Regions from separate parts of the Homo sapiens genome. Here region 2 is linked to region 1. Evidence: fine-mapped QTL for protein levels in blood plasma. A gene starts in region 1. The other region holds a variant in brackets. All regions are shown on one strand. Distances are between the middles of the regions.

The links. PIP is the chance, under the fine-mapping model, that this variant and not a neighbour inherited with it causes the effect. Protein levels are from antibody-based Olink assays in UK Biobank. Linkage for the fine-mapping came from a reference panel and not from the study's own genotypes, which makes the PIPs less certain.
Region 2: its variant is fine-mapped to the plasma level of the STX7 protein (UK Biobank, PIP above 0.99).

Annotation. Positions count from the first base shown.
Region 1 is chr6:132,504,649-132,519,910 of GRCh38, reverse strand. STX7 (syntaxin 7) reads left to right here and starts at 6,795. Exons shown (of 10, transcript NM_003569.3): 1 at 6,795-6,904. It also overlaps the pseudogene RPL21P66. RefSeq lists enhancers at 6,489-6,688, 7,046-7,547 and a silencer at 6,839-7,328.
Region 2 is chr6:132,443,238-132,458,499 of GRCh38, reverse strand. It overlaps STX7 (syntaxin 7), which reads left to right. Exons shown (of 10, transcript NM_003569.3): 10 at 1-12,633. Among named protein-coding and RNA genes, the nearest start is that of MOXD1, 49 kb to the right of the region's middle. The variant A/G (reference allele first, on the strand shown) is at 1,101.

The DNA.
Region 1 (15,262 bases):
AGAATGAGCTGGGTGTGGTGGCATGTGCATATAGTTCTAGCTACTTGGGAGGCTGAGAAGAAAGGATTGCTTGAGCCCAGAAGTTTAAAAAGTTGTATGTCCAACAATCAGGCCTATGTATAGCCCCTGCATTCTAGTCTGGGCAACATAGCCAGATCCCAGATCTTTTCTGAAAGAAAATTTAAAAAATTTTAAAAGAAGAGAATGAGAAGATAAGCTACAGAGCTACAGACTAGGAGAAAATACATGTAAATGATATATTTGATAAAGTACCAGAATACAAAAATAATTCTTAAAACTCAACAGTGGGAAGACAACCCAATAAAAAGCAGGCAAAAGATTTGAATTAACATTTCACTAAAGAAGACAGATGGATTTCAAATAAGCATACATAAAATCACAATGACATGCCACTACACACCCATGAGAATGAAAAAAAAATGTTTTTCAATTCAACAATATCAAAAAGTGACAAAGAAGTAGAGTAACAGAAATCCTCAATCATTGCTGATGGGAATGCAAAATGATACAGCCACCTTGGAAAACAATTTGGAAGTATTTTGTAAAATTAAATGTAGAGCCAGAATTGCCATCTTCCAGTAATTTGCCAAAATGATTAACACAAAGGGAAAGAGGAGAGGCACCTGATACATGTTCTCTAGGCCTTTTAGAAAACATGGAGTTGTTCCTTTGGTCACATACATGCGAATCTACAAGAAAGGTTATACCGTAGTCATCAAGAGGTTGGGTGCTGTTCAAAAATGAATGCCCCACAACTATCACCATGGAAAAACTGGAAGAGTCTACAATGTAACCCAGCATACTGTTGGCACTGTTGTAAACAAACAAGTTAACGGCATGATTCTTGCCAAGATAATTGATGTGCATATTGAGCATATTAAGTACTCTAAGTGCCGAGACAGCTTCCTCAAACACGTGAAGGAAAACGATCAGAAAAGGATCTCAAGGAGAAAGTCACCTGAGTTCAATTAAAGCAGCAGCCTGCTCCATCCAGAGAAGCACACTGTGTGAGAACCAATAAGAAGGAGGCTGCTAGAACTTATTTCCTATGAATTCATGCCATAATAGGTGTAAAAAAAATACCTGTAAATTGTAAAAACATTTCTCTTCATTGAGTAGACGTGTGGTGGCCCCTCCCCCGGAGCAATATTTAAAGCAAAAATAAATGAATAAATATACACTTATACAGTCCAACAGACCTACTTCTAGATATTCACTCAAATGATTGAAAACTTCTATTTTTACCAAAATCTGTATTTAAGTATTTATAGAAGTTTTATTCATAATTGCCAAAAATTGGAAACAACCAACAGGTGAATGGATAAATAAGCTGTGTTATATCCAAACAATGGAATATTATTCAGCCACAAAAAAAAACAAACTATAGATTTATACAACAATGTGGATGTATCTTAAATGCATTCTGCTAAGTGAAAGAAATCAGACCCAAAAGGTTATATATTGTATGATTGAATTTATAGGACATTCTGGAAAAGGCAAAACTCTGGTGATAGAAAACATAAGTGGTTGCCAAGGGTGGGAGGAGGGGGATGGGTTGAATAAGGGTTGTTGTGAAAGGGAATTTTCAGTATGGTAGAACTGTTCTCTATGGTATTGGAGTTATGGATACATTACTCTATATATCTGTCAAAAATCCACAGAACTATATACCACAAACAATGAGCTTTATACAAATTTAAAAAATCAATCAGTATATTTGTGGATCATAGGATAAAATGCAGATCTATGACAACTGAATTTAACTGCAAAGTCAACATAACCTAATTTCACTGAAGGGGATGGGTAAAGAGCCGACCTTGGTGATTTTTAGAAAACATTGTTTTGACTCAATATTATAAGGCTAAAGACAAAAAGAATTGTACATAAACACTGCACTAAAGATTTTTTTCTCACACAGAGTAGGAGTTAGCAATTCTGAAGCTATTAGGTTGGTGCAAAGGTAATTGCGGTTTAATGGCAAAAACCACAATTACCTTTGCACCAACCTAATTTTTTACATTATAGAAATAAGAACATAAATGGTAGATAATGGAAGCTAGGTTTCTCACTTCTAGCGAAAGAAGCTAAAAATTAGGACAAGGGAAGGCTAGAATGACCCCTATAATGTTGGATTAGAATTGGGAATGCCTAGATGAACTCGTGTTTATATATATAGATAAAATCTGATATAGCTATGGATATGTAAAACAACTGGAAAACAACTTGGCAGTTTCTTGTAAAATTAAATTTATAGACATACTTTATACAAGGCTTATACTGCATATAATGTATACTGTATACATTTCTCTATGGATCAATTCCCTGATTCCTTACCCCAACTCACACAAACCCCACCTCTGCCCAGTCCAAGCACTTTTATTTTTACCAAATATATTTTGGGGCATGCAGCCAACATGGGGATGGCATGAAGCCTGGAGTAAATATCCTACATACATGAATTAGTATATATAAATTTATTTCCTAGCTCTGTCCATTGAGGGGAGCGTAGAAGCACTGACACCCTAGTAACAATGAGAAGGTTAGTGCCTTGATCTTGATTTCTTTTCTTTTCTTCTTTTTGGTAGGGTGGGGGACAGGGTCTCACTCTGTTGTCCACACTGCAGTGCAGTGGCATGATCTTGGCTCACTGCAGCCTTGACCTCTTGGGCTCAGGCAATCCTCCCACCTCAGCCTCCTGAGTAGCTGGGACTATAGCTACTGTGCACATCACCACACCCAGCTAATTTTTGTAGAGATGGGTGTAATAGCCAAGGTTCTCTAGTGGAACAGAATTAATGGAATACATATATATATATATATATATATATATATATATATATATATATATATATATGAGTTTATTAAGTATGAACTCACATGATCACAAGGTCCCATAGGCTGTCTGCAGGCTAAGGAGCAAGGAGAGCCAGTCCGAGTTCCAAAACTGAAGAACTTGGATGCTCAGGGGCAGGAAGCGTTCAGCACGGGAGAAAGATATAGGGTGGGAGGCTAGGCTAGTCTAGCCTTTTCACATTTTTCTGCCTGCTTTATATTTGCTGGCAGCTGATTAGATGGTGCCCACCAGATTAAGGGTGGGCCTGTGTTCTCCAGCCCACTGACTCAAATGTTAATCTCTGTTGGCGACATCTTCACAGACACACCCAAGATCAATACTTTGCATCCTTCAATCCAATCAAGTTGACACTCAGTATTAACCATCACAACAGGGTTTTGCCCCATTGCCTAGGCTGGCCTCGAACTTCTGGGCTCAAATGATCTGCCTGCCTTCGCCTTCCAAAGTGCTGGGTTTACAGGTGTGAGCCATGCTACTGTGCCTGGTGGTCCTGGCCTTTGATTTCTAAATAGCTTTTTCCAATAAAAAGAAGAAGTGCTTAATAGTAAAATGACTGATTCTAGAGCTGGAGCAGGGAGAATACAAGCTAATTTAGTTGGTACTGCTATACCAATGCTGATTTCTTAGTTTTGACAAGTGGACCATGGTTATGTAAGATGTTAACATTAAGGAAACATTAGGGGAACCTGGGTGAGGTATATACAGGAGTGCTGTACTATCTTTGCAGCTCTTCTATAAATCTAAAATTATTCCAAAATAAAGAATCGTTTAAAACATGGGGGAGAAGAAAAAATGTTTTCTAGCTAATGGGAACTACGTGAGCGAAGCACAGAAATAAGAAAACCCCTGGTTTGTGACTGGGGAGCTAGCTGCTGGGATGGAGGGGAGAGCAGACAGAGAAAGAGGAGTTATTTAAGCCAACATATTCCAAGCATAAATTTTGATGCTTGGAAAGGCAGGATCAGACCATGTGGTCCTTATATGTATAGGGACCATATGATGCATCATCTGAACTGAAGCACGTTTGAGAATGAAAGGGCATGCTCAGAAGACAGGCGGCCAGGACAACAAGCATAAACTAGGGCTGTCCTAGCAAACTAAATATATGGTCACCCTGTGTATATGCAGGGGGCTTGGACTTGATTTTGAGAGCAGTGTTTTCCATTATGCATATTTAAAAGTTTTACAGGCAAGTTCCACCATCAAATACACTCATAAAATACTGGGTAAAAGAAATTTTTACTTGTTTCTTTCCTGAACCACTTCTCAGCGTCTTTAATTTACAAATATGCTCTGTGAATCTTCAAGAATGCAATATAATATGTTTCCCAAACATTTCTTTGTAGACCAATTCCCTGATTCCTTATTTCAACCCACACAATTCCCCAGCTCTCCCCAATCTAATTATTTTGGTTTTTTTTCTTAAGAAATACAGTTCAGGGAATGCTGCAATCATGGAAATGGCATGAAGCCTGGAGCAAAGTTCTCAGATTAGAGCTTCAAATATTCAGTGGTGGCTTTGACAATAATAAAGTTGAGAAGACCTGGAGATAGAAGATCCAACAAGGAGGCTATTGCAGTGGATCAGGATGTCAACCGTGAGGGACAGAGAGAAGAGGGCACATATGAACAACACTTAGGAGGTAAAATTAGAAACGAAAATACCAGTCATCAGGAGGTAAAATTAGAAACAAATATACCGGTCATCATGCTATAATGGCCCATGTAAGATTTCCACGGGATATCTGTTTATTACCTCCATGTTCAAAAGCTAGGGCAAAATCAATTCTGTGCTTGATATATGACTAGGCACTTGTGTGATCTTAAACAGAAAACAAGTAGACTGTAGAGAGACATGGAAGGTGCTTAACAATAAGGCACAACTGAACTAACTCTTGTTTATTAAGTATTAATTTAAGCTTCCTTTTAATCTAGCATAGATTTTTTAAACCAGTTGTGGTTTTCCCACTGTATTATAAATAAAAACAAACCTTCATAAGTCAACTTGTCCTTCTCACTTACCAATAAGTCCCTGTTTGCTCTATTTACCTTTATGCGTCTTTTACTTCTTTGGCTTTCCCAGAAGATCACATAGTGGTCATGTAAAAAATATTTTTAGTTCAGTAACTATTAAATGAACCAGCAATTATCTCCTTCTATTCCCTGGAATTGCTATCCCAGACACTGGAGATACAGCAGTGGACAGTTCTCCATCCTACATGAGAGATGTTACATAGGAGGTATTTATGGTATTTATATTAATAAGGACACCACAAGTGTGCAGATAACATTCCCCACTCAACAACTTCTGGTTTCCTTCAAAATCTCTCCAAGAAGGCCCAAATCTCGCAAATTACTATTTCTGAAAATCCAAATTACAAGCTTTCAGTCATAGGTAACTTCTGCACATGGAAATGATTTATTTTGGGAGATGTGACATTATCACTCATCAAATTAGGAGACTTTTAAAGCCCTACCACTTTCAAGACACCTGGCTGAATTTAACTTGGTAGCAGCCAGATTCACAGATGGAATACTGTGTCAGGAACTCTTAGTAATTCATTTATCTTAATACTTCTAAATTTTGCAAGTTTGTCTAGACTATAATTCTTTTTTTTCCCATTTGAATACCAAAGGATGAAATCTTATTCTAAGTTTTCAAAAGACCTGGAAGGAATCCACTCATAACATATTTTAAAACAAGGAATTGGAATGAGCCCAAGATGAGGGCTCAGACAGCTAAGTTTTGGGCCCAGCATAGTCAGTAACTATCAGGGTAACTTGAAGAGGCCACTTAATCTCAGGTTCTTCTGTAGTGCATTGTACCTTCCCTCCCCGGAGCCCAGAGTTCTATCAAAGGTAATATGAATGGGTATTTGGAAAGTGCACTAAACCTCACATGGATGTAAGATCCTTTCATGTGTTCCTTCAATGATTGAAATGTTTCTTCCTACGTTCACCAGCCACTTCCTAATTCTCAAGTACAATGCACTACTTTCAGTTCTTTATTTACTTGAACTTTGTGTAACAGGTGACATCATGGACAATTCCCTCCTTTTTTCCTTCATTCTCTAGTTTACCTTTTCCTGGTTTATTTCCTATCTTGTGGGTTACTCGTTTTCAGGGTTATTCTTTCTCTGTCCATCTCTCTTAAGCAGACAACATTCCACACTTAGTGTTGGTGAGTTCCAATCAGAATTCTATCCTGGGTTTTGTTTTTTTCCACCTAAGTGCGTCTGGACTTTTGATATCACCTATCCGGGTAATCATTTTAGAAAATAGTGTTGCCTTAATATAGGCAAAGGCTAAGCCAATCTATCTTCTAATTAATTTGGAGAGGGCTTTCTTTCATTTGTAGCAATTGATGCTTTTCATCTAACAATTACAATATATTTGCATATTTATCATTGGAACTGTCTCTGCTTGTTTTAAACCCTGTGAAAACTACGCCCTGCTTTTCAGGAATGCTTAGAATGACTTGTATGTACTAGGAAAACTTGTTTACAAGTGAGCACCCAGAGATGACTCTTCACTTATTCCTTCATTGTTCCTGCTAGGATTGTGTACTCGCCTTTGCATTTTTCGATAGAGCTGTCAACGCGATCTACTGCAGTTAAAGGTTAGCAAACAAGACAGGCAAGAGCTAATGGGGCGGGGTGAAGACCCGCGTGCAAGAAGGCTGGCTTCACCAGATAAAGAAGACAACTGTCCTCCATTCTGTCCTTTTTTGCACGCAGGCTAAGAGGCGTTCACCATCTCTACGTCAGGCTTCAAAGAACAGCTCCCTTGCAATTTTGCTGATACCCCCATTCCTTAGCTTGGAACCGGAGGGGCGGTGAGGGCCGCTGTCACTCAGCCCCGCGGGCCAATAGAAAAGGGGTGAACCCCGCCTTCTTCCTGAGTTGTGCTGCGGGCATGCGCACTGGGCGTCCCCACGCCACCGCCCATCAGCTGAGAATTGCAGCTGAGGGCTCCGGGGTAGGTGGGTGACGGCGGTCGGAGGTGTAGGAGGGAGCCGTGGAGGTCCAGGTAAGAGGACCCTGGGGAGGGGGCTCCCTGGCCGGGCGACAGGGAGGCGCGGTGCCCCTGCGGCTGCTGCGCCTTCTTGTTTGTGCGCGTGGTCAGGTGGCCGCCGCCCTGCGCTCTGCAGCAGGCACTCGGGAGGCTAGGAAGGGCGGGACTGCCCCAGCTCCCGGAGCGCCTGCGGCTCCCCACGCCCCCCGGCCGGGTGCAAGGGCGCGGCGCGTTCCGCATTCCGGGTGCGCGCGGCTGTGGTCAGGTGGGCCTACCCAGCCACGCACCCGCCGCGGTCCCCTGGGCAGAGCTCCGGAGGCGCACGGCTGGCGGAGCGCACCCCGGGGAGGGCGCCAGAGCCGGCTGGGGCCCAGCTCAGGAATCCAGACACGACCAAATGACCTCTTCCTCTTTTCAACTCACGGATTGAAAAACACACTAAACTTCCCGAATATAGAGGAACTGAAAAATGTATGGCTGTAGCAGGCGAACCGTGTATGTTTATTTATTCAGAGGATCGTAGTATTGTTTTTTTAATTTGGCTTGATGACTTTAACATACTTTGACATTCTTTGAGTATACACCTTTAATTAATTTACATAAAAACCTTTAAACGTACATAAAATATTTCTAGTATTTCCTCCACCTTGTTTTCTAGTTACTTTCTTTAAATTCAGACAAAGAAAAAAAGTTGCATTTCTGATCAAATGCTGTGTGTTTTTTCCCACAAATTTCTTACATTTGTTTGGCTCTTATCTGTATACGTTAATTTTTGTTTACCTCAGATCGTTGTATTCTGACTATAATTATATATAATATATAAAACTTGCCCAGAATCTGGAAGAAAAGAAAGTAATTATGAAATGCTGTGCTATTTAATAATGTTGGAAGTGGACATTTCTTCTGCAGGTTCTCTGAGCACACCTGGGCAGAGGCTGATAACGGTGTTAAACTGTGTTTTGTGTTGTGGACAGGCCTTATAGGCTACTTTGAGAAGTTGGCCTCAGACTCGTGACTAGTTAAGAATTATGCTCTTAACTTCACAGTTTCTGTAGAGGTTAATATGATACCATATTAACTGATTAACATCATAATTTTTCCTCAGATATGTTACTTATGTTGCTCTTGATAACAAAATCAATCCTTATTTTGGTTATGACCCCAAACTTTAAGTGCTGATGATTGAAAAGTAAATTATAGAAAATATTCACAGTAAGTCTGAGTGAAGTTTGCTGTGATTCCATTTAATTTGCAAGTTTCATGTGTGAAAGTATGAAAAAAACAATCCTCGGTATTGTGAACTAAAACCAAGTAGTACAAAAGGTCAGTGATGAAAGAGCTAAGGCCAAAGAATACAGTTAATGTAGTTTTTGCAGAGGATACTTATGTAGACAGAGCACCCTCACATTCCTTGAGCATTTACTATGCACCAGGCACTGTAGATTACACAGGATGACAAGGTCATCTCTCTCCTGTTTATATTCCAGAAGTAGCTCCTGTTTGTATTCCAGAGGTGTAGGGATAAATAATAAACAGTGATTAATTCGACTTTTGAGTATTGTGAAGCAGTAAGTTAGATTGACAAAGAGTGACCAGTGGTGAGTTCTCACTTTCATATCAGAGTGGTCACAAAGGTTTCTCTAGCATGTGATGAGGCCTTGCTGGGGAGAAGGAGCCAGTCACGTGGAGATCATGGGAAGAGCCTTCTAGAAATAGGAAATGGCACCCAGCAAAGGCCCAAGGCAGCAAGAAGCCTGGGACCTTCGGTATCTGAAAGAAGGCACTGGAATTTTATGTTTTGGAAATGGTAATATTTACCCTCACGCTGGGTGTGTGTTCTTAGGAGGTGGGTACATTCATTCATTCTACAAATGTTTGTTAAGCACTTGTGATGTAGCCAGGCAGTGAGAATAGTGCAGTCCACAAAACAGACAAAAAAATGCTCACCCCCCACCCCTCAGAACTTACTTGGGGTAGAGGGTATAGAGAAGTCCAGTTGTTTATGCTGATGCTAATGATTAAGAAAGTGAAATTGACTACTTCTTTGCCCAGGGTAGATTTATAGAGCATGAGATATATGCTAAATGGAAATCTTAAGGATTCTACAGTATATCGGATTTTAACTGGGAGTAGTGTTTGACACTTCAAGATTAAATTTTAACATTCCTTTTGTTCATTCCTTTGTGTTCTTTAGAAGCCGTCTTGAGAAGACTCTCATCTGAGTGTTGCACTTTGATTCTCCCTTCCTGTTTTTCTCTTTATAGTGTTTGTATATCTTCATAGAAAGATGATTATTGCAATGTGGAGATTAGCACTGTGCAATAGATCTTTCTGTGATAATGGAAGTGGTCTATGAATGAGCTGTCCAAGCTGCTGGCCACTAGCCACACAGAATTTTTGAACATTTGAAAGGTGTCTAGTGTGACTGAGGAACTGATTTTTTTCATTTAACTTAATTTTAATTAATTTTAATTTTTTAAAAACGAGAGCTACAATGTAATTTAAGTGATACACAATATAAAATGGTGTAAATTGTCACATGAAAAAATGAAATGTAGAGTAAAAGTGTAGTTTCTTACTGCAATCAGTTATCTTGTTAGCAGCTTAAAATAACCTGTAATAAGATTTTTTTGCTTTTATTATTTTAATCGACAGATAATGATTTACATATTTGTGGATACATGTGATACATCAGTAGATGTGTACAATGTGTAATGATCAAATCAGGGTAATTAGCATATCCATTACCTCAAACATTTAACATTTCTTTGTGTTAAGAGCATTCACAATTCATTCTTTCTTCTAAGTATTTGAAAATATGCAATAAATTGTAATTAATTGTAGTCACCTTTTAGGGGTATAGAACACTAGACTTCATTCCTCCTACCTAGCTGTATTTTGGTGTTAGTTAACCAACCTTTGGCTATCCCCTTCCCGCCATCCTTCTCTGCTTCTAGTAACCACTATAATTTTAACAGCCCATTTAGTTAGTGGCTAGTCTGTTAGTACAGGTCTAGGTAATGAATTATATAATTATTATTCTGAGCAATTAAATAGGAATTCTGAGTGGGCTTTCAAAAGTATTCAACAAGAGTACTTTAGTGCGTAGCAGCTCTGGGCTAGGTAATGGAGACTGATGTGGAAAGCAGACATCTGAATAACTCAGCATCCATTTAGCCTATATGCAGAGATCATAAGCTTTTAATCAATTTGTAGTTACCTATCCTGTCTGTCTATGCTTGTATATATATTTTTTAAAGACAACCATTTGGTTCCTTTCCTTTGTGTGTCTCATTATCAAAAGAGCCAACTGTTGTTGCCTTTTAGATACCACTTATTAGCAGAATAATAGAGAAAAGGAGTAAGCTATTCCTCTGTGTTACCTTGATCAACTCATGTAGTTATCCCAAACATATTCCTTCATCTTAGGAGTGGGAATAGCAAAACTTCATATGGGGCATGCAGAAAAGTGGTAAATTTGGTTTTTCTTTTGTCTTTTTTTATTTTATGTTATGTTATGTTATGTTATGTTATGTTATGTTATGTTATGTTATGTTATGTTATGTTATTTTGAGACGAGTCTCGCTCTGTCGCCGGGCTGGAGTGCAGTGGCGTGATCTTGGCTCACTGCAACCTCCGCCTCCTGGGTTCAAGCGATTGTCCTGCCTCAGCCTCCTGAGTAGCTGGCACTACAGGCGCATGCCACCACACCCAGTTAATTTTTTTAGTAGAGATGAGATTTCACCATGTTGGCCAGGATGGTCTCAATCTCTTGACCTTGTCATCTGCCTGTCTTGGCCTTCCAAAGTTCCGGGATTACAGGCGTGAGCCACCGCGCCCAGCCCAAATTTGGTTTTTCTAACTGAGTTCACCTGCCCTCAATTTTGTTATACAAGGAAGCAGTATGGCTTAGTGTTTAAAAAATGTCGGCTCTGTGGTTATTTTCAAATATTTGCTCCTTTGCTTATAATGATAATGAGGCATAATGATATGCCTCAGTTTCTTCATGTAAAAAAATCACATTAGCAATTATACCCACATGATAGGCTTATAAGAATTAACTGAGAAAATAAATTTAAAAGTCATAAGCACAATGCTTAGGAAATGTAAGTCCTGGATGAGTGTTGGCCATTGTTAACTTTGTTTTATTTTACACATCTTTCTTCTCTATCTTTTGCAAATTGCTTTTCATTCTTCACACATGATTCCTGGCTAGATACAGTGGCTCAAACCTGTAATCCCAGCACTTTGGGAGGCTGAGACTGGAGGATCGCATGAGCCCAGGAGTTCAAGACCAGTCTGGGCAACAAAGTGAGACCCCCATCTCTATAAAAAAATCAAAAAATTAGTGGGATGTGGTGGCAGGTGCCTGTGGACCCAGCTACTCGGGATGCTGAGATGGGAGGATTGCCTGAGCCTGGAAGTCAGGGCTGCAGTGAGTCGTAATCACACCACTGCACTCCAGCCTGGGTGCTCCTGTCTCAAACAACAACAACGCCAAACAAAGAAAAAGTAAAACAAAACTCATAATTCCAGTCAATCTAAGTAGCACCTCTTTGGGTGAATGAAGCCACTTGCCAATTGTCTCACCAGCAGGAACTTTCTCACATTTAGTAGCTTGAGGAAAGGGATGAAGAAAATTGATTGTGTTTGTGACTAAGTGATTGATTTTCCAGAGAGGAAAAAAGGTGGCCTTGAAAGAAAACAGTGAGAAGACTTGGGCTACACTGGTGTGAGTTTTAAGGGTAAGGAAAATGCTGTAGAATACTGTCCTTGACTTGATGGAACTCTTTATGGGAGAGAGAGTAGGCCTCAGGTGTGCTTGCATGGTTTTGAGACAGGTGATGAGTTTCTCTTGGTCTTGTGCTGATGCTGGTCCTGCAGCTGCAAGAACAGATCATAACTTTCCTCTGTGTAGGGTGGAAAAGCATTTGTTCTCTGGATGTGCATTATCTCATTTTGATTCTGGCAGTGGGCCCAAATGCTAAGTGTCTTGCCCAAAGTAGAAATTTCCAGTTGCTACTTCCATGGTGTGCCGCACAGGCAATGGCTGAGTTCTTGTAGCTTCACAGACATGTAGACACGAGAGAAAGCCAAGGGTACGAGCTGGAGACATGGATGTGCGACTCATTCAGGTATAGATTAAAATGGAACCATGTATATGGAGGAGCATCCCCAGAGATTACATGAATAACAAACTGAACATTTTTTCATTCAATGTGTTTGTTTTGGCTTGTAAGCCAGTTTTTCCAGAGATCTACTTGATAGAGGGAAAGGAGAAAGGAAGATGTCATTGAACCAAGAGAAAATTGTCTTTCTCCATACCTTGGAATATTATTTGGCAATAATGAAGGAATATTATTTGGCAATAATGAAGGAATGAAGGACTGATATATGATACAGCACAGATGGACTTTGGAAGCATACTAAGAGAAAGAAGCTAGTCTCGAAGAACACATTGTATGATTCCATTCCTATGAAATGTCCAGAATAGCAAAGCTATAAAGATACAAAGTAGATTAGTAGTCACCTTTGGCCAGTGAGGTTGGGGAGAAATGGAGAGCGATTGCTAATGATTACAAACTTTCCTTTTAGCGTAATAGAAATGTTCTAAAAGTGATGATTGTACAATGTTGTAAATATATTAAAAACCATTGGCTTGTGTACTTCAAGTAGGTGTATTGTATTGCCATATCTCAATAAATTATATCTCAATAAAGCCATTTTATTTATATAAATTTAAGGGGTGCACATGCAGTTTTGTTACATGGTTATATTGCATAGCGTGAAGTCTGGGCTTTTAGTGTAATCATCACCTGAATAATGTACATTGTACGCATTAAGTAATTTCTCATCCCTCACCCTCCCATCCTTTTGAGTCTCCAATGTCTTCTTATTCCACTCTCTGTCCATGTGTACACATTATTTAGGTTCCACTTACAAGTGAGAACATGCAGCATTTGACTTTTTTCTGAGTCATTTCACTTAAGATAATGGCCTCCAGTTCATCTGTGTTGCTGTGAAAGACATAACTTCAGTCTTTTTTAAGGTTGAATAGTATTCCATTGCATTTATATACACTACATTTTCTTTATCCATTCAGGAATGTTAATAGACACTTGATGGGCACTTAGGTTAATTCCAAATCTTTGTTCTTGTGAATATTGCTACAATAGACATATGAGTGCAGATTATCTTTTTGGTATAATGGTTTTTTTTTTCTTTTGGGTAGATACCCAGTAACGAGGTTACTGGATCAAATATTAATTCTATTTTTAGTTCTTTGATGACTTGCCATGCTGTTTTCTGTAGAGGTTGTACTACTTTACAGTCTCACCAACAGTGTGTGTGTTCCTGTTTCTCTGCATTCTTGCCAACATCTGTACTTGTTTGACTTTTTTTCTTTTTTTTCCGTTCAAGATGTGTTTGTGGATGAATTTTTAATAGCCATTCTGACTGTTGTGAGATGATGTCTCATTGTGGTATTAATTTGCATTTATCTGGTGCTTACTGATGTTAAACATTTTTCATGTGCTTCTTGGCCATTTGTATGTCTTCTTTTGAAAAATGTCTATTCATGTGCTTTGCCCCCTTTTTAATGGGGTTATTTGTGGGGTTTTTTGTTGAGTTGTTTGAGTTTCTTGTAAATTCTGGATATTAATCTCGTTGGATGTGTAGTTTGCAGATATTTTTCTCCCATTCTGCAGGTTGTCTGTTCATTCTGTTTATTATTTCTTTTGCTGTGCAAAAGCTTTTTAGTTTAATTAAATCTCATTTTGTCTGTTTTTTGTCTTGTTGCCTGTGCTTTTGAGGTCTTAGTCATAAATTCTTTTCCTAAACCAATGTCCAGAAGAGTTTTCCCTATATTTTCTTTTAGTATTTTAATCGTTTTAGGTATTACTTTTAAGTCTTTAATCCATCTTGAGTCGATTTTTTTTTTTATATGTTGACAGATAAGGGTCCAGTTTCACTCTTCCGCATGGGGCGATCCAATTTTCCCAGCACCATGTATTGAAAAGGGCGTCCTTTCCTCAGTGTATGTTTTTGTCAACTTTGTCAAAAAGATCAATTGACTGTAGATATGTGACTTTACTTCTGACTTCTCTATTCCATTCCATTGTTCTATGTGTCTGTTTTTATATGAATATCATGCTGTTTTAGTTACTATACCCTTTTAGTATAATTTGAGGTCAGGCAATGAGATGCCTCCAGCTTTGTTCTTTTTCTTAAAATTGCTTTGGCTATTCAAAACCTGTGTTTTTTTTTTTTTTTTTTTTTTTTTAAGTGACTTGGAGATGCATTTAAAATTGCATGGTTTCAAGGATGTTCCGGATGGTGTTGGTGTCATTGAATCCCCATGTCTACTCTTGTTCTGTCTGGGCCCAAGTCCAAGGCTACCTGGAAGGAAGTTTATTCCTGTCTCCCCACTGTAGTGGTCCAGCTGTCTGACTTTAGGTTTGAATTTACCCTTTAATGAAATTGCTTTTGGATCCATCTCTAGGATTTGGTGAGACCCAGAGAGCCCAGAATAGATCAGCTGTACCTGAGAGGGAAGTTGGAGAATATCTAAAAGCCACCAGGACTTTCAGCGTGGCCAGGCACATTCAAAGTGCACCAGAGTTCCAGGCATAGAACCAGTACTGTTCTAATGGTCTCAACAGTTCAGCTGTTGTACTTCCTGCCAACACTGTCCCTTAGAGCAAAGACACATACTTCACTGTGGCTTCTTCTCTACCAGAAATCTTCTGTGGCATTAGTTCTATGTGGTAGCAAGCATGGATAGCCTTGGCATCAGAACCCTGGGACTGAATCTCACCTCCACCTGTGGGTGGGTTGGGTTACCATTACTTAATCATAATAAGCCCGCTGTTTGCTCATCATTAAAACAAGAATAATGCCACTTAATTGAAGGAGGTTGTGAAAAAATTAGTCTGTGAAATACTTTTTGTGTCGCAGATGTGCGAGAAATGTTAGGCCATTCCTCTCTTTCCCTTTATGTTGTTTTCCCCTTGTCCCAGCTGTGAATCATCTGATCCAGGGTTGGCCAGGAACCTTCCCTTCCTTTTGTAAATACCATACTGCATGTGGCCTTTCCACGTGCTCTGGGTCTCTCCACCCCAGCCTTCACGTCCTTGCCTTTGTTGTTCTGCATACTGGTCATAACCAAGCATCCAAATCCTATGTTTCTATTTCATAAATTCTTTCCAGACAAGGATGATGGTCATTTTTTCTTTTTGTAGCCCTTCTCATTTTAGCCTAGCACGTGATCTTTTATGGATTTGTGGGGTTTTTTGTTGGTTTGCATTATTAACTTTATCCTTCCTCCTAAATGACAAACTTGATTTGAGCAGATACTGTGTCAGTGTGTTTTGT
Region 2 (15,262 bases), 61 kb after region 1:
GCTCAAAAGAAATACTCAAACACAGACTGATATTAACCAGCCAGGTAAATTGAACGACAATGTGGCATTAGGTATTTGGCTGTTTATTGGTCGTTAAATACTATGGTTTTGCAATATGATTGATGGTAAAAGAGTGATGTCATATTGATACTAGAGTAGCTTGTTTTTTTAGTAGGTGTGGGACCATCTCTTTTACAAGTGCAACTCAGTCTAGGACAGCCATGGATGCAGTGTCTGGAGTTGGACCCTCTGAGCCCGCTGGCTGCCCCAGTAGCATCTGCATTGGTGACCAAGGACACTGCACTTTGAAGAGGTCGCCACTGGGTTATTTAGTGTCTTCACTGCTTTTGTTAAAAATTGTAAAATTTTGTACACAAAAAGTTGTGTTTTTGAATATCAATTGTTTAGACACACCTACAATGATAAATAAGTGCCTTTAAAGGCCCCTCTTTCCATGAAATACATCTGTGGTTTAGCAAGGAAAGTACAAAATAGTTTATGTAGTTGGTATAATTTTTATTTGTGTCTTCATGTAGAAAAAATGAATGTCATAATAAAATATAAAACTTACGTAAAGAAAATAAAGTCATTGTCCACCTTAATAGCTAAGGTCCACAAGGGTAACTTATGCAGCATTTATTTTTTTTGAAAGTCAAAATTGAATTTATTTCTTTCACATGGCTGGTTTGCTGCAATATGAAGTTTCAGAATGGGCTGAAGTAAGTTGATTGAGGGATTTGAGTTGAATGACATTTTCAAGTTCATTTAAATATGATAAAAATTCATTGGTGGTAAATAACATCTGTCTTTCCTGGAAAAAAAAAAGTTGTGTATTTTCATGATTCAGTTAAAACAAAAAATGAGCCTGTGAATCCCAGGCCTTTTTAGTCCTCCATAACATTTGAACAGTTTGACTTGTCAGCAAAGAAATACACTTATCAAATTTTAAACCAATGGGAGCCTGAAAGTGTTACAGTGTACTGCTTCTTTGACAAAATTCTGTTTAACAACTACCCTAACATAATTTATAAATCAATTAAGATAAAACCATTTTTTTCTGAGTATTTAGGAATTTGTGTCCTCAAAATACTGTGACATGA[A/G]AGATAGGAAAGAAATTACCTGGTTGCCAGACATGCACGATTATCTTTCCTCATTTCAGCTGGATTTTCCAAAGTCAGTAGATTGGATAAAGCAGCATCTCATTCACTGAGGTCACAAGATAGGTAGGAAACTTCTTTAATGTGAATTTTGCATATTTTAACAATTCAGTTAGAAAAACAGAAACCACTTGATGGATTATAAGTGTAAAGTGTTTTAACATAGGGAATTAGACATCAAAAGGGTGGGTGAGGAAGGTGTCTGCGGCCCCAAAGTGGGTGGATCTCAGGAGCTGGCCCAGGCACTGCTGTGACTCTTGAGAACATCCAGAAGGCTGTGCTGTTGGCGTGCAGCACTGACAGTGTGTCTCAGGGAGCTGTCCCCAGCTGTCAGCTGTTAATAGCTCCAAAGCCAGTGCCTTGCAAGAGATTTTGAAACTGCTGTGAAACTCATGTCCTCTGCCCGCCTACACTTCTGTCTGCAGTGGCCTCTGAGGAAAGATGGTCTCTCCTTTTCTCATGGTCAACTCTCAACTTAGAACCAGAGACAGAAGGAGTTTGTGGGAAGTGTGGTTTCTGGTCTACCTGCACTGCAGAGGACATTCTAGAAAGAGAAGTGAGTTGACAGTCTAGCATAATTGTGAAACAAACACTGAGATGTACAGTTCAAACCACGTGAAGTGGAAGCCTCAGAATTTTCCTCACTTTCATTAAAGATTCTTTGATGGAAAAATTTAGAAGCATTGGCTCTAGATGGTAAGCAAGTCATTTTTTTCCAACCAAAATAAAAAATACATATACTAAGCTTCTGGGGCCCCAGGACTTAACACAGTTTCCTTCCTTCCTTCCCTTCTTCCTTCCCTCCCGTAGTAGTTGCTTAATAAATACTTAATTTGGCACTTATTTGGGGCCGGCTTTTTGCCAGGCTACTACATGCCTGGGCATAGTGTTCTAAGAGTGAACCAAAAGAATAAGCTTCCTGCCCTCAGGGAGTTTATGTTTTGTTATTTGGCATATAAAAAGAACTTGGTGTGTTAAAAGAAGGGAAATAGCTGTGTGAAAGGAATGAGGCAAGGAAGAAAGGGAATGTCTAAATATAAATCTCCGTTTGGACCAGCCTCCTGTTTATCCAGTTTTCCTTACTAAGTAACTGAATTTCATTTTCTTTTCTTAATTGACAGACTACCAGAAAATTGCTAGTTTTCTAAAGAGAAACTACTGATTTGAGTGATGATCTGTGTGTAATGGCTCCAAAAAGGAGCCGTTCTCTTGGTGGCAGCAGTTGGATTCAGAGCTTGGGCATCCTGATCATCAGGACAGACATTTACAGGATATGTATAGAATTACTGCCCCAAATAGAGGGCAAAGCACTAGACAGAAGGGTGAGATCCAAGGGGAATTTGGAATCTATATTTCATCAGAATGCACTCAAAGCAAAAACAGTAAGTATGCTCCATATAAAGAAATGTTTCTTAAAATGTTTTTAATTTAACCCTACCCATCCCTTGGCAAATCTTTTTCTTTTAAATCAAATAGGAATAAAGAAGAAAATCTTCCTATTGGCCCATTTTCTCATTATTCAAATACCATATCAATACACCAATTTTAATTCTTTGTTTTTGTAATCATTTGGTTAACATGAATATTATGTAATATTTTTCTCCAAATAATCCTAATTTTAAATGCAGAAATAGAGCTAAATAACACACTAAATAGGTTTTTGTAGACACTGTAGCTTCTGGCAAGTTTTTAAGAGGTTGGTCACTTAATTGCTTAGAGTGGGATTCCCGTAGGTTTTGTGTAGTGATGGCATTTATGCTTAAAATGTAAGTGGTGGAAGGCAAAACCAGATTTCCTGTCCAGTCGTTACACGCACAACACCTCTACTTGTTGACGAGGGAGTTTTCTAGAACTGAATTGAATCTTTAAATAAACTTGAAAGGGCATTAATTCCCACTTTGGCCAACCCAAAGTACAAATTTTTAAGTGTTTACTGTAAGTATCGTTAGGCAGTAGTTACTAACTCCAACACCTAATAGCATTGGTAGAAAGCTTATAAATGCAGTTATTTAGCCTCGACTAAGATTTTTCTGATACCTAGTTTCACTTTTTAATGCCCTCTGAAAGTTTTTTGATCAGTTGTTTAATGGGAGATCTGAAATGTTAAACTCAGACCAGAAAGAAGAGAACCTGTTTTCTAGAAATTAGGTTTTTAATCCAAGTAAGATGCAAGCTTTTGCTTTTTTAATAACTTGTATAGCTAAAAACTTGACGGTGAAAAGCTCTCAGATCAAAGCTGATCCTTCTGTCAGTAATGATTCTAAAAATAAGCAAGATTTTAATGGGGAATATATTTTATTTCATTCTTATCTCAAACCTAGGTACTGTGGTCGTTTTGAGTTCATTTCGAGGCATTTTCAATGTGCCTCAGGCCACATCCAACCTCTTCCCAGGGCCAGATTTAATGTTCAGCCTCATAAAGGTTATCATAGTTTTAACATTTAAGTACTATTTTGCAGTGGGTATATACCAAAATTTGCTAATAGTAAGATAACCTTAGTTATATATCATTCACGTTAGTTCTATCTTGGAGGCAATAAACATTTCTTGTTCAAGAAATTCATGTTCTATCTTGGAGGCAATAAACAAACATTTTTTGTTCAAAATTAGGGCTACCCTATTGTCCTTATGTCTTTTCCTGATCTGTGGTCAAACATTTTTCTTAGTCATTTAGAAATTTTCTATGTTGTTTTAAATTTTCTTTAAATCTAGAATGGAGTATGTGACCAATACTTTCCTTTGGAATGGTATGGACATTTGAAATAGAGCCCATTCTTTATAAAGTATAAAATATGTTTAATGCTAGTATTTTTAACTAAACTTTTGAGAAACTAGATTCACATGCTGTTGTAAGAAATAATACAGAGACCTCTTTCGTGTACCTTTCACTTTGTTTCCCACACAGTGAACATCTTTCAAAACTGTCATACAATATCATACCCAGGATACTGACACTGGTATAGCTAAGATAGAGAACGTTTCCACACAGAACTTTTTCTAGCACAGGGATCCCTCATCTTGCTTTTGATGACCATACCCACTTCACTCCCATCCCTACTCCCTTCTTAACCCTTGGCAACCATAATCTGTTCTCCATTTTTATAGTTTTTTTTTTTTTCATTTCAATAAAGCTGTATAACTGGAATCATAATAATATGTAACCTTTTGGGATTGGCTTTTTTTCATTTAGCATGATTTTCTGGAGGTTAATCCAGCTTATTATGTGTATCAAGTCTATTGACAGGTACTTTTTAGTGTGAATAGAATCCCATAGTATAGATGTACCACAGTTTGTTTAACTGTTCACCTGCTGAGAGACATTGGGCCAGTTTTTGGCTACTATAAATAAAGTTGCTATAAACATTTGTGTACAAGTTTTTGTGTGAACATAATCTAGTTTTCTGGGTCAAATGCCCAGCAGTTATATAGTAGTTGGGTCATATAGTAGTTGAATGTTTAGTTTTTAAGAAATTGCCAAACTTATACCAAGTAGCTGTACTATTTTATATACCCACCAGTGGTGTATGAGTGATCTAGTTGCTTCATGTCCTTTTCAGCATTTGGTGGTGTCTCTTTTTTATTTTAGTCATTCTGATAAGTGTATAGTGACAGCTCATTGCAGTTTTGATTTACCATTTTCCCTTCGCTAATGGCAATGATGTTGAGCATCTTTGTTTCATATGCTTATTTGCCACCTGTATCTCTTCTTTAGTGACATGTTTCTTCATGTCTTTTCTAATTGGATTTTTTTTCTGTTGAGTTTTGAGGGCTTTTAAATAATGTGTGTGTGTGCCTCTGTGTGTGTGTGTGTGTATTTTTTTCTAGATACTAGTCCTTTGTTGGATGTGTGATTTGCAAATATTTCCTCCCAGTCAGTAGCATGTCTTTTCATTTCTCTTTTCTGGGCCTTTCACAGAGCAGAAGTGTTTAATTTTGATGAAGTCCACTCTATCCATTTTTCTTTTTATGGATCATGCTTCTGGTATCAAGAACTTTGCCTCTCTCCTTAGATCCCCCAAATTTTCTCTTTTATGTTGTTTTCTAAAAGTATTATAGTTTACGTTTTACTTTTAAGTCTATATTCCATTTTCAGTTAATTTTGTATAAAATGTGAGACTTAGGTCTGGGTTCATTTTTTTTGTTGTTGCCTATGGATATTCAATTACTCCAACATGATATTTGTCGAAAAGGCTCTTTTTTGTCCATTGAATTGTTTTTGCACCTCTGTCAAAAATCAGTTGAGCAAAAATGAGTTAATGAGAAATCAGTTGGGCACATTCGTGTGGGTCTATATCTGGGTTTTCTATTCTTTTCCATTAGACTATGTGTCTATACCTCCACCAACACCAAAATCTTGATTACTGTAGTAAGTCTTGAAATCAAATAGGCTGGTTTATTCCACTTTCTTTTTCAAAATTGTTTTAGCCACTTAGTTCCTTTGTCTTCCCGTATAAACTTTGGAATAATCTTGTCTGTATCTATTCAAATATCTTACTGGGATTTTGACAGGAACTATGTTATACCTATACATCAATTTGGGGAGATTTGACATCTTTACCATGTTAAGCCTTCCCGATCATGATCACAGGATCACTTCACTTCATTTCAGTTAAATTTTGTTTTCCTTCATCAGTATTGTGTGGTTTTCAGCATACAAGGTCTGTACATGTTTTGTTAGATTTATACCTAAGCAATTTAATTTTTGAGAGAGATTGTAAATGGCATTGTATTTTGAATTTCCTGTTCACATGTCTATTCTAAGTACATAGAAATAAAGTGAATTTTTCTATTTTGTATACTGAGACCTTATTGAGCCCACTTACTCATTTTAGGGGATTTTGATTGATTCCTTGGGATTTTTTTTTTATATAGATAGTCATGTCATCTGCAAATAATGAATAGTTTTATCTCTTCATTTCTGACCTATATTCCTTTTTTTTTTCCTTTCAGTCCCTTAATGCAGTGGGTAGAAATTCCAGCAGAAATAAAAGCAGTGAGAGTAGAGATCCTTGGCTTGTTTCTGGTCTTAGGCAGAAAGGATTCAGTGTTTCACCATGAAGTATAATGTTAGCTGTAGGTTTTTAAAGTAGATGCTCTTGCTAAAGTTAAGGAAGTTATCTTTTATTCCTTTTTTTCTGCAAGTTTTTATTATGAATTTTATGTTGAATTTTGTCAAATGCTTTTTCTGCCTTAATTTACATAATGCCATTTTTCTTCTTTAGCCCATTCATGTGGTAGATACATTGATTGATTTTTGAATGTTGAGCCATTGTTACATCCCTGAGATAAACTCCACTTGGTCGTGGTGTATCTTTGTATATATAGCTTAATTCTTTTGGCTAATATTTTGTTAAGGATTTTTGCATCTGTTTTAATGCGACATACTGGTTGGTGGTATCAGGGTAATACTAGCTTCAAAATGAACTGGAAAGTATTCCTTTCTCTTCTGTTTTCTAAAGCGGATTGTATAGAATTGGTGTCAGCGCTTTTTAAAACATTTGATAGAACTTTCCAATGAAATCATCTGGGCCTGGAGATTTTGGGGGAGGGAGTTCTTTTTATTGTAATTTCCACTTTTACAATAGTTATATGGCTGTTTAATTTATCTATTTCATATTGAGTTGTGACAGTTTGTATTTTTAGATGAATTAGTCCATTTCATCTAAGCTCTCAGATTTATATGTAGAGTTTTTGGTTGTATTTTTTGTTAGACTTTTGATGTCTGATATTCCAAAACTCCTTCATTTATCATTTCCTTTCTGTTTAGAGCACTCCTTTAGCCTTATTATTATTATTGTAGTTCCATTGGCAACAAATTCTCTCAGTTTTCTTTCATCTGAAAATGTCTTGATTTTCCCTTGATATCTGAAGAATATTTACATTAGACATAGACTTGTAGGTTTATAGTTCTTTTCTTTCAGCACTTGAAAATTGTTCTGCCACTTCCAGCCAAGAGGGGTGGCTCACGCCTGTAAGCCCAGCACTTTGGGAAGCCAAGGCGGGCAGATCACTTGAGGTCAGGAGTTTGAGACCAGCCTGGCTAACATGGCGAAACCCCGCCTCTACTAAAAATACAAAAATTAGCCGGCATGGTGGTGCACATCTGTAATCCCAGCCATTTGGGAAGCTGAGGCAGGAGAATCACTTGAACCCGTAGGCGGAGATTACAGTGAGCTGAGATCGCACCACTGTACTCCAGTCTGAGCAACAGAACGAGACTCCTTGTCAAAAAAAAAAAAAAGGAAAGAAAATTTCATGGTTCCCCATGAGAAATCCAGTTTTTTAAATTGTTTTGGTCCCTATAGATAGGTGTCATTTGTCTTTTTTCTTTTTCTTTTTTTCCTTTGTGTTTAGTTTTTAGTTGTTTAACCATGATGTATCTTGTAGATTTGGGGGGTTTATTATATTTGAGGTCTTCTCACCATCTATATGTTTATGTCTTTTGCCAATTTTGGGGAGTTTTCAGCTGTCATTTTTTTCAAGAACTTTTTCAGTCTTCCTTCTTTCTTCTTTCTTTTGAGACTCTGATGACACAAATGTTAGATTTATTGTAGTTCCGTAAGTCCCTGAGGTTCTGTTCATCTTTGTTCTGCCTGTTTTCTTCTGTTGTTCAGACTGTGTAATTTCTATCATTTTATCTTCAGATTTATTCATTCTTTCTGCAGTAGCTTCCATTCTGCTATTGAGCCTATCAATTAAGTGTTTCATATTGATTCCTGCATTTTTCAATTTTAAAATTTCTGGCCCTTTACCGAAAATGTTGGTTGACCCCTGGAGTATAAACCTATACTATAGAAGAGAGTATCAATTTTTTTTTTTTTGAGAGGATCAATTTAAACAAAAGTTGGTCTCTTTAAATAAATAAAGTACACATAACTTGGTGAAACCGATTTGGAAAAAAACAGAAGACATAAAAAATTTAGGAATGAAAGTACAGATAAATAACCAAACATAGATTTTAAAATAATAAGACACTATAAACAACTTTATGCCAATATATCACAAAACAGAAAATGAATAATTTATATGAAAAATGCAAATTACCAAAATCAACTACGAAGTAGATGATTTCTGCTTCCTGCCATATGGTTGACTAGGTATACTCAAGGATCCTCCTGCTAAAATACAGTTAGTTCTTGGATAAAATACAACACACATAATATTAGTTCATTTCCTGGCTCATTAGAAAGAAAGATAATCACTAAAGGCTATTACCAATGAGAGTGGGCTAAAATTAAAGTAGTTGAGAAACAGGAAAACTGTGCCTCTGAGACTTAAGCCATGGACTCCAGGCAAAGTAAAGAAAGTGAACCTAAGATTCCTTCATAAAACCAGGAATGCTTTAAAGCATTAAAGTAGTCCTAAGTCAGTGGACTCTGGTGGTTACTCTAAGAAGTGGATGAAAATCCCCTCCGAAGGAAAGCCTCCCTAATTAATGCTTCTAGATTAATCAAACATGCAAGGAAACACACCATTTGCATTGAGAAACAGTAGATTTAGATATTCAAGGAATTCAGGTATTGCAATTAGCAGAAGTAGAATAACAGTTATATGTTTAAATAATGTATGAATTAAAACGAACATGAAATGAGAGATGTGTTAAAAGGCAGATATTAAAAAGAACCAAAGACAACTTAGGTATGAAATTTAATTATTGAAATATATAACATAATGAATGGTTTAAGAGCAGATTCACCACAACTAAAGGAATTGTTGACTATCAAGTTTTAACTGAGGAAACAACATATTGCAGCAAAAACAGGTAAAGGGATAGAAAATAAGAATTAGAGATTATGAGACCTGAAGGATAGAATGGGAAGGTTTAATATGTGCTGATTGGAGTCTAAGAAGTAAAAAATAGAAAAAAATTGAGGTAATTGCTGACAAATTTCCAGAGCTAAGAAAAGCCTGGGACCTGGTATGGTGGCTTATGCCTGTAATCACAGCATTTTGGGAGGCCAAAGCAGAAGGATCACTTGAAGCCAGGAGTTTGAGATCAACCTGGGAAATGAAGCAAGAGCCCCCACTCCATCTCTACAAAAAAAATTAAGAATTAGCCAGATGTGGTGACATGAACCAGTAGTCCCAGCTACTTGGGAGGCTCAAGTGGGAGGATCACTTGAGCCCAAGAGTTTAAGACCAGCCTGAGCAACATGGTGAAACTCCATCTGTACAAAAAATACAAAAATTAGCCAGGCATGGTGGCACACACCTGTGGTCCCAGCTACTCAAGAGGCTGAGGAGGGAGGATCACACGAGCCCAGGAGTTCAAGGCTGCAGTGAGCTATGATGGTGCCACTGTACCCTGTCTAAAAAAAAAAAAAGTGGATCCACATATACAAGAAGCAAAATGTATATCAACCAGGAAAAGGAAGCCAATGTATATTCATTATACTCAAACTTCAGAACAATAAAGGCAAAGATATCTTAAAAGCAGCCAGAATAACTTATCCACTTTTAAAGGAATAACGAATTGACAGACCTTTTTTTTTTTTTTTTTTTTTTGAGACAGAGTCTTGCTCTGTCACCCATGATGGAGTGCAGTGGTGTGATTTCTGCTCACTGCAACCTCCATTTCCCGGGTTCAATTGATTCTCCTGCCTCAGCCTCCCGAGTAGCTGGGAGTACAGGTGTGCGCCACCACAACCTGGCTAATTTTTTTGTATTTTTAGTAAAGACGTGATTTTGCCATGTTGGCCAGGCTGTTCTCGAACTCCTGACTTCAGGTGATCTACCTGCCTTGGCCTCCCAAAATGCTGGGATTAGAGGCATGAGCCACTGCACCTGGCCAACAGTAGACTTTTCAGTGCCAAAACTGGAAGGCAAAAGACAGTGGAATAACATCATTAAGGTACTGAGAGAATAACTCAATAGAATGAGTGCCCAGTGAAATTATCTTTCAAAATCAAGGGTATATTAAAAACACTTTTTTCTCAAAATGAGAATTTACAAACAAGGGACTTTCACTTAAGAATAAAGATGAATTTTAGAGTACAGCAAAATGACTAGGAGGAAAGTCTGAGATGCAAGAAGGTATGGTGAGCTAAAAAATCAGTAATCATGGGAAATGTAAATAAATACTGTCTATATTAAGAAGTATTTACTCTGTGGAGTAAAAAAGAGCGTAATTAAAATACTAGCAACATTTTACATAACTCAGGAAATGTATATGTGGGGAAAGTGTCCGGGAGCACTTAGAAGTTAGTGTGAGTGCTCCAAGATCCTGATACTCTTTAGGATGGAAGTTAAGATAATGAATGACTTTAGATGTTGTTAATCTAAGTACTTAACAGAAAATTTTCAGATAACCTTTAAAGAATAGCAATACAATATAACTTTCAAACCAGTAGAGAGGAAACATTCTGAAATAAGGGAAAAACACTTTAGAAATCCCAACTTTGATAGACCACAAAAATGCAAGAAGGAAGAAAAAGCATAGAAAAAGCAAAGAAATGGCATAGTATATAATAAATGGTTACAATAAATATAAATTGCCTATCTCACCAGATTAATAAAAAAAAAAGTCTACCTTGTTCAATATATACAGTTTACAAAAGACAGTACAAGGACAGAGAAAGACAAAAAGTAGAATTAGGGAAAATAAAACAAGCAAATATACCTGGTTAGGATAGCTGTATCAGTATTAGCCTTACAAATATTAAAGTGAAAAGCATTAATAAGGATAAGGAGACTCTCAAAAATAATAAAAATTTCAACTGAAGTAGGTATAACAGTTCTAAACAAAGTTATTAAAGTAAAAATGTAGAGGGCAAAACGGAAAAAAAAACTATTATGTTGTATTTGAAGTCACTCAATTTTTAGCTCGAGCAGCAAAAAAGTAAATAGAACAACATGGTAACCAAAGTTGATTCAATTAATACATAAAGGATCATGTTCCCCCAATTTAGAGCATGTGCATATTTCTTAAGCATGTATAAAAGATTTAGAAGGAAAATGATAAAGGAATGTTTTGGGGACCTCTGATAGGGAAAGATTTCTTAGAAAATCTGCAAAAGATATTAACCATAATCTACATAAAGTCAACTGTTTTATTTCAAGCCTCTCTGGAAATAGTTTTGTTGACTGATAAGAAACGCTCTATGTCAGTCAGCTAATCAATGTCTAGTGAGTCTAACTCTTTCCACTACACAGTAAGTTCCATCTTAGGGTGTTTTACTTAAAAGCCTGGTGTCAAATGTTACACGCACAAAAACTTATTAGTATCTTTTTAACCAATGTATCTTAGGAGATACGGAATTATTTCTAACACACTGGTTGTATTTACTAATTTTCCGCTGAGCCATCATAAAAATAGAAGTCACATCGTCACTATTTCTTGCTTGTCCAACCCAGTGTCTATGGTACCCTCGGCAGTTATTCATGGCTCCTAGGCCTTCTTTTAGAGTACTGTCTCTCTTCTATTGGCTTTGGATGGAATTGACTCCATCCTAACTGCAGAAATGATAGGCACTGCTTTACATAAATCAGTCAGCCTAATAGCATTCTTTTTGCCTCAGAGATTGGTTCAGAGATGGGGAAAAACCCACTCTAGGCAATCAGCTTGTGACTTACTTTCCTCCAATTGGTGATCCAATTAGGGCAGTGTGTGGAATGTGCTGCTCTGTATGTGCAGCCAGATGCTCATGTTCATAAAAAACATTTTAATACTGTGATGGAAGATACAGCTTCGAGACAAAGACACAAGCTTGGGTAGAGTCATTCATTCATTTAGTAAGCATTTGCTGAGTGCTTAATAAATGCTGGGCCCTGAGAAAAAGCAAAATCTTATTCAGCACATTCTGACATTGGGGACAATGCGATAGTTGATAGCTTCCACACTTAATTAGAAACAAAGATTATCTCTTAAAACCTCATTCTTGTATCTAGGAAGACTTTTGTTTTCCCAATCAGAAATTGTGGTTCCAGAAAAAGAACAAGACAATGAAAACATTGTATAAAAGGTTTCTTTCAAACTTTTTTCAATTGACAGTTTTTCACCCCAATCATCTTGATGCAGAGAGGCTTCAGAAACACAAGTGACTCTGTGTTCAGACCAAGTACTTGGCCTCGAGAAGATGAATGATCAGACCAACTCACCATATGATTATAAGGGTCAGGTAGTTTAAAAAGAAATTACAATCTGAATTGAACCATGGATGAACAGTGTTGCTATTGAGCTTCGAATCCCAGCTAATAAGCATAACCTTGTAAAGAGAGGTTACTGTTTGGGAAACTGCATGTTCTTGCAGGAGGGCAAAGCTTTTGCAATATAAATAGTTGTAAGGGTACTAGCTTTCATCTTTAATACCTTAACCCTCTGTGTTTAGAGTTTTTGTATCCAGGGCTGAATTGAGAATTTTAGAAACCTTGAACACTGAAGAGATTGTAATAACAACCCCATGTGTAATTTATAAAATCTTCAAAAGAAAATTTACTTTTTCAAAATGTTATAAAACTCTGAATACTGAAATGAAAATGGCTTCATTTTTACATTTTATTTCAAGACGCTACATAAATTCATCAAAGTTAAACTTTTCTTAGTCATTCCTGCTGTTTTGCTGGTGCCCTCGAAGACTCAGCTTGTTGAGTAATAATTCAGCACTGATTGCATTACAAGTATCTACTGATTTTCATGTAATTTTCCAAAATATAGATGGAGAAGAAGAACATTATTTCTGAGAGGAATTTGATTGTGTATGGTGAAGAGTATGTTTTGAGCTTGGCTCCTCTAGACTTACTTTCTTCCTGAATGGGTCTAATAAGAAGCACCCTTCAATCCTAAATATATCTTTCTCTTACACAATGACAAGGTAATGTGGGTTTTAAAAAAACAATGCAGGTCTTCATCTTGGCACTGTAGAATGCTTGATGTACATTAAACATGATTGGAGGAGACATTCAGTTGGATAAGGGTCACTGTGATTCACTGTGATTCAAAAGGCCATGTCAGGCCCATTGCTCTGGCAAAATTTAATATGCAAGAGTTGGTAGGAATGTGCCTCAGAGAAGTAGGCTGAGGTTGAGCCAGTCATTTCTGACTAAATAAAGAAGAATGCTTGAAAATCTGTTCTTCCCTCATCCTCGAAGCTGTTAATGATTTGTAAAATTTTCCTTCTTTTTATTTGATCATAGTATTAAGAGCAAATTAAAAGACCAACAGCTCTTGCCTAAGGCTTCCAATATGACATTTGAGTATTATTATTGTTTTTTGTTTTCTTTTTTAAATCTAAAAACCTTCTGGAGCTCTCTGGAATAGAGAAAAAAAAAAGGTTGACATTCTTTTTTCTTTTTGGATAAATTGTTAACCAGAAAACATTTGTCATATCTAGATCTTAAAGCAAAAGTAAATATTATCTTCATTGAGAAAAACAATAATCTCAGTTCCTTACTTTGTATTTCAATACTTTTTAATTTTTGTTTCTCTCCTTAAGACTATTTCTAAATTATCTAAATTTAGTGGCATAATTGTCTCTTATATAACGATACTATTACTTGGAAGGCATTATTCTTTTTCATTGAAATATAATTCATCATTGAGAAATAAAGGCACAGACACACAGGCAAACACATACTACAATGGCACGATTTTATGTTTTGAATAGCATTTAAGTCACAATTTAATATGTGCTGCTTTTCTTTGGGTCATCAATTGTATTACATTCTCTTAGATTCTTAGTTTCTTTGCCCTTAGAATTCCTTTAAAAATGATGATGGCTGTTGGGTTGGGAGCAGTTAACAGGGAAAGGGAAATAGTCTTTCAAAATCAGTCTTTTAGGGAGATAAGTTGTTCCATTTAAATTACAATACTCAACTAGAGGATTTCAGAAGAAATGAGAACGCTGTAATTGAACCACAGTGCTTCTTATTTTGCCCCCCATGCCCATCCCTTTTAACCCATAAAGAAATAGTTTTCTTTTATTGAAATTCTCTCCAGTGGATATTGACTAAAGTTATACAGCTGAAACAACCAGGAGAACCCATGCTTCTTTCTCCGTATAATAACCATTATAATGTAAGAAAAGTTACACTGGACAAGTTAGGCAAGGAAGACTTTATTCAAGACAATTGCAAAAGAGATCAAGACTATCACAATGGAGGAGAAATTGAACTCAATCACACTGAAACAGACAGGAGAATTTTAAGCATTGAGGTGAGTTAGTAAGTACTGAAAGACACTAGAGGTGAGATCGGTAAATGGGATCAGGCTATCTGTGTTTGCTAATTGGCACCTACTGAAGTTAGGCTTCTCCTTTCCCACAGATACAAAGAAATAAAGGTGCAATTTTTCTTGGTGATTACATTTCTAAGGCATGGTTCTTAGGCTTTGGAGAAAGATGCTCCTGGGTTGTAGAAGATTTACTTCACAAAGGGATAGAGAAAGAAATTATAATTGCAAGTTTTCTAAAGTAAATGATCTAAGAAAAGGGGCCTATGCTCACAAAGAAACCTGTCTGAAGTTTAGTCAAGCTGAGGGGATTGTTGAAGCTGTCTTAGTCGTAATTTCTACTGTTTGTTGAGCTCTGCATGCCAGGTACTGAACTGTATGTTCTACTTAACATTTACTGGCAATCTTCCCATTAACCCTTTGGGGTAGCTTTTATTATCCCATTTTACCAAAGAGGGATTTTACAGATGAGAAATCTAAGGCTCAAAGAGTTTAACTTACCCACAGTCACACAGCAAGTAGATGCTAGAGCCAGAATTTGAACTGGGGAGCCTGCCTGTCTGCAGAGATCATACTTTTAATTACTAGACCATCCTACTTCATCTGTACTTCTACTGAATATTCAGAGAAGTGGTAGGATCATTGCCAAATACTTCTAGAGAAGGTACTTATAAAAGATTTGCTGTTGTCAAATCATCTTGGGAAGAATGCCCTTAATCACTATGGCAACACAATATTTATGCATACTTATCTGGACCCTGGGCATGCCTGCAAATGCAACAGCATGTTTCTTACTGTCAATTTTGGAGGATCCCCAGTTGATGTAGCTCTGTATTTGCTCATAAAAATTAGTTATAGTAGGATAAAAATGAGGAAAGACTAGGTATAGCCATTAAAAACACATGTTAGGAGCTGGATGTGGTGGCTTATGCCTGTAATC